Regions from separate parts of the Homo sapiens genome. Here region 1 is linked to region 2. A link means that fine-mapping ties the variant in region 2 to the expression of a gene that starts in the linked region. Tissue or cell type: whole blood. Region 2 holds a variant in brackets; the other region holds the start of a gene. All regions are shown on one strand. Distances are from middle to middle.

Evidence for each region. PIP is the estimated chance that this variant, and not a neighbour inherited with it, causes the effect.
Region 1: SLC16A10 starts here. The variant in region 2 is fine-mapped to the expression of SLC16A10 in whole blood (INTERVAL, PIP above 0.99).

The regions. Positions count from the first base shown.
Region 1 is chr6:111,086,284-111,089,042 of GRCh38, reverse strand. It overlaps SLC16A10 (solute carrier family 16 member 10), which reads right to left and starts at 1,540. Exons shown (of 6, transcript NM_018593.5): 1 at 948-1,540. The coding sequence starts at 1,290. RefSeq lists silencers at 970-1,149, 1,180-1,859 and an enhancer at 657-1,157.
Region 2 is chr6:111,155,088-111,157,846 of GRCh38, reverse strand. The region is part of intron 1 of SLC16A10 (solute carrier family 16 member 10); the gene reads right to left. Among named protein-coding and RNA genes, the nearest start is that of SNORD166, 43 kb to the right of the region's middle. The variant A/G (reference allele first, on the strand shown) is at 1,163.

The sequences.
Region 1 (2,759 bases), 69 kb after region 2:
TCACTTAGCCCTTGAAGTCAGTTGATATGTGTTTTATTGCCATTCTACTACCCACCAAGACACTTTCACTGAGCTACAGTTTTCTCACCCAAATGGGGTTGACCGCGCTCACCTTGCAGGATAAAGTGAAAGAATTTATGTTAAAGTGTCATGCAGAAGGTCTTAGATTTGTTTTTTGCCTAACCAGCCAAAAAGTCATAATAATGCTCTACAGGGAGAAAACGCTGAATCTGCACCTTTTGTATCTAATTTACTATATGGTTAAAAAAAAATGTCAAAAAACACAACAGGAAGAGGGAAGAAGCAACCCTTCACCTTCCTCATCCTAGTCCCTAATCCGGCTGCCTCCCGTGTTTTCTACATTTAACCCAGAGGGCAAAAAAAGGCGGGGGGACGGGAACGCACGGAACCGTGACTCTTGCAGGGCCCCCTTTGGAACTCCAGTGACCTTCGTACAAATCTCTTTCATTCCTCCAAACTCCACCCCCCGCCCCGCCAACATACGCACACCCCTCTGCGGCCCAGGGAGGCAGGTGAAGAACTACATAACTGGCATAGTCACGAAAGAGACCACAAAAATGACAGGGCGATGACTGGGGTTGAAGGTTCTGGGGTTCTGTTTGTTTTCAAACAATAAAAGGAAGGGCTCCTGTGGACTGTTAGCGTCTGCTCTGCTGAGGGGAAAGGAGGACGATCTCGGCAAGTAAGTTCTGCGACCTGCTTGCAAACACACAGCTCTGCAGCTGGATTCCATATAAAGACGGGCACCCCGAGGCCCCAGAAGCGGCAGGCTCTGTCTGCAACTCGAAAGACCCCCCTGCTCGCACCCTCTGGCACAGGGACCCACCGACATGCACACTCGGAGGCAGACACAGCCCACACGCGGGATGCGCTCGGGGGCCCCACGCGGGTCGCCCAGGCTGGCCTCGGCGGGCGCCGCGCCTCACCTGTCTTAAAGACCATCTTGTCATCGTCTTTGGAGCCGAAGGTTTCCAGCATGGACACGAAGAGCACCCCGCAAGCGTTCTGGATGCCGAACACCGACCCGTTGCACCACATGGCCGCCAGCATCACCAGCCAGCCCCAGCCGCCCTCGGGGGGTTCGGGGGGCTCATGGGGCTCCGCGGTCGCCGGCCCCGCCAGCTCCACCTCCACCTTCTCGACAGCCGCCTCGGGGCTGTCCGAGGGTCCCGGGCCGGGCGGCGGAGCGGCCCCCGTGGGCGCGGGGCCGAGCGGCTGCGCCTCGCTCGTGCCCCGCGCGGAGTCCGGCTCCTCCTGGGAGAGCACCATGGCCCGAGGCGGGCCCCTCAGGCGCCGGAGAAGCGCGAGGGACGCGAGTTACCAGCGGGCTCCCGGAGGAGCTGCGGGGCTCCTGGCGGGCTAACGAGGCCGAGGCGAGGGCGGCGGAGCCCCTGGCGGGCGGGCGGGCTGGCAGCGCGCAGGCGGCCAGCGCGCAGGCGGCCGCGAGGACAGCTGGCGCGCGCGAACACCTCGGGGATCGACACTGAAGCCTCTAGGTCACAGCCCCGCACCCCCGACTGAGCCCACTGCCAGCCGCCGGTTCTTAAAAGCACCCCCCGCCCCGCCGGCTGGGGGCGTGGCCGGGAGCGGGACGTGCCCCCACAGCCTCCAGATGATTGGGCCTCGGAGAGCGGAGGCGGGGCGCCCCGCGGCGCGCGGCCCCAGGTGCCCGCGGCAGACGCTGTCTGCGCGCGCGTCTGCGACGGGGCCTCCTCCTGCTCAGAGAGGGGCACAGATGTGTGGGTCACCCCGCCTCAAAGCATGAGCAGAAGGGGCGCGTCTCCTAGGTGCGGGCGCGGTGGGCCTTCAGGAGAGCCACACTGGATCGTTAGCCTCAACTCACCGACACAGCGTCACAGTCACACTAACATTGTCTCGATTGTGTTTGTTTTATGTTTTGGCATTCACCTCTCAGTACTAATTATAATATGTAAGATTCGTTATGCCACCTGGCTTCTTAAATAAGTCATCTGAAGGATCAGAGCCCTTATTTTATTACTTCAGTTCCATTCTCTTGCATTCGTATACAATTTCCTTATGAATATTTGGCACACCAAAGATGCTTATTTTCAGTCCTCACTGGACTGCAATTCCGAAGTCTTCAACCAACAAACATTTTTAACAGACAGCTAGAAAGCATTACTTTTCAACTACATCAGAGTCGTTTTCACTTTAAACAAAAACTAAAACCTGTATTCAACTCCTCTGTCTCCCTGAAGCATGGAGTGCCATCCTATGTAAAAGAAAAGAAGAGTAACCTGCTATGCAATATTGAGGATGCTTCTTAATTTCTGTTATTCGTATTCTTCACTTCAATCAAAGTCAAAATATGCTAGTTACTTGATGTGCCCACCACTGTGATAGAGTACACAGATGAGTGCGATTGATCTCGTTTCTGCCTCTTATCAGTTGATAAACTGGTAGGAAAAAAGAGTCCTGGGAGAGACTAGGAGGCTCAGATGATGTGTTATAATACATGTACAAAAGAGAGAGATGAGATAGTCCCTTAAATTCTCTCCAAACACTGTAGAAGAGCCTCTACAGCAAACAGCCTTTGGCCGAAGCCCTGATTCATACATACGACTTCAGTGGGTCAAGACAGGAAAAGAGCATTCCAGGTAGAGAAAATAGCATAAACTAAGGAAAGCAAGCCGTGCTTGGTTGTGGAATGGGGAACATAGCTCAAGTGTAATCTGCCTTAGAAATGAGGGTAAAATAGTAAACAAAGGAATAGGCAC
Region 2 (2,759 bases):
ATAAACTATTTGGAATTCTTCTGCATGGGAGATTTGTCTAGTCTCCCACATTTATGTATTTATTCAATCACTTGTTTATATCATTATGGACTCATAGATATTTATTTTATACTTTGATTTAAATTCAAATACTTCTCTGTGGCATAGATCTGCCTTAAAACCACAAGTGGTCTGAAGTTATACTCTGTGGTTTCACTGATACTATTTAGCTAACTTGTATCTTCAATTCTTGGAAACCTCATTCTCAGATGAAAACACCAAGTTTGGCCAGGCACGGTGGCTCATGCCTGTAATCCCAGCACTTCGGGAGGCCAAGGTAGGCGGATCACGAGGTCAGGAGTTAGAGACCAGTCTGGCCAACATAATGAAACCCATCTCTACTAAAAATACAAAAAATTAGCTGGGCGTAGTGGCAGGTGCCTGTAGTCCCAGCTACTCAGGAGGCTGAGGCAGGAGAATCGCTTGAACCCGGGAAGTGGAGGTAGCAGTGAGCCAAGATCATGCCATTGCACTCCAGTCCAGGTGACAGTACAAGACTCCATCTCAAAAACAACAACAACAACCAAGTTTTATCTCAATAGTACGATCAAAATGTGAAACTTTCCTACCTTTTAAAAAATAAACTTTTGTCTGGGCGCGGTGGCTCACGCCTGTAATCTCAGCACTTTGGGAGGCCGAGGCAGGTGGATCACCTGAGGTCAGGAGTTCAAGACCAGCTTGGCCAACATGGTGAAACCCCATCTCTACTAAAAATATAAAAATTAGCTGGGTGTGGTGGCGCGTGCCTGTAATCCCAGCTACTTAGGAGGCTGAGGCAGGAGAATCGCTTGAGACCAGGAGGTGGAGGTTGCAGTGAGCCGAGATTTCACCACTGCACTACAGCCTGGGCAACAGAACAAGACTCCGTCTCAAAATAAAATAAAATAAAATACACTTTCATTTTAGAATAGTTTCAGATTTACATAACAATTGTGAACAGTACAGGGAGTGCCCATATACCTCACATCCAGTTTCCTCTATTATTAACATCTTACGATAGTATGTTACATTTGTCACAATTAATGAACTACTATTGATACATTATTAGTAACAAACATCTATATTTTACTCAGATTTCCTCAGTTTTAACTAATATCCTTTTTCTATTCCAAGATCCCATACA[A/G]GATACCACATTATATTTAGTCGTCATATCTCCTTAGTCTCCTCTTGACTGTGACAGTTTGCCAGACTTTTCTTGTTTCAGATGACCTTGACAGCATTGAGGAGTACTTTTCAGGAATTAAGTAGCATGTCCCTCAATTAGGATTTGTCTGGTGTTCTTCCCATGATTAGTCTAGGGCTATGAGGTTTTTTGGAAGCACGACTACACAAAGTGCCATTTCATCCCATTATATCAAGGAAACACAGTGCAGTATCAACATGGCTTAGTGCTTTTGATGTAAACCTTGATCATCTGGGTGGGACAGAGTTTGCCAGATTCCTCCACTGTGAAGTTGTCTTCTTTTCCCTATTTATACTGCACTCCTGGAAGGAAGTCACTAAGCAGCCCACACTTACAGGAGTGGGGAATTAATTATGCTCTGCCTCTTTGACAGTGAAGTATTTACCTACATAAATTACTTGGAATTCTTCTGCATGGGGGATTTGTCTAGTCTCCCACATTTATTTATTTATTCAATCACTTGTTTATATCATTATGGACTCGTAGATATTTATTTTATACTCTGATTTAAATTCAAATACTTCTTCATTTTGTTGGCTATTGCAAACTCTTTCACATGGCTCCTGTGACCCTTTGACATACTCCCATTATTGGGGAGCAGTTTATTGTTTTTAGTTTTTGAGTACTCCCTTGCTTTCTGATATATAAGATGCTCCAGGCTAATCTTATATATTATCATCAGCCCTTTCTGCAAGGAGCCCTGGTTGTTTTTACTGGAGAATAGTATTACAAACCAAGATAAATGGTGCTAGGTGTTTTTGTTGCAACAGGGATGTCATGGCTTCTGCGCCCTCTTAGCCAAAGGAGGTAGAAAATACATGTACATATACCAACCTATCTATGCATAGCTATAAATACTTTCCACATGTAACCATCTGTATCTACATTAAGCTAAACATAAATTCATGCTGAGCATACTTACATACACCTCCAACTCTTCTAATTCATTATCACACAGGTTATTCTAACTCCTTCCTTGCTTGTCTATAATCTTTCTTTACAGCAATGAAAAATCTGGGAACTTCCTACTTTTCACCTCAGAAAGTTACAAGAGTAAAAGAAGAAATGAATTTATGTTTTGAGAGGAAATCACTTCTTCGAATAACCACATTATTATGTTTTTTGGGCCAGGCGTGGTGGCTTACGTCTGTAATCCCAACACTTTGAGAGGCAAAGACTGGAGAGCTGCTTGAGGCCAGGAGTTTGAGACCAGCCTGGACAATCTAGGGAGACCCTGTCTCTACAGAAAAAAAAAAACGAAACAACTTTTTAAAATTAGCCAGTCACGGTGGCATGCACCTGTTGTCCCAGCTACTCAGAAGGCTGAGCTGGGAGGTCAAGGCTGCAGTGAGCCATGATCATGCCACTGCCCTCCAACCTGGGTGACAGGGCAGGGCAAGATCCTGTTTCAAAAAAAAAAAAAAAAAGTCCTGTTGAAAGCAGTGATATTTAAAGAAGATAGGAAGATTGTGCGGTGTACCCTCTGTGTGTCACCTTAGATGAGGCCAGACCTAGAATCCATAACCCAGATGAGATC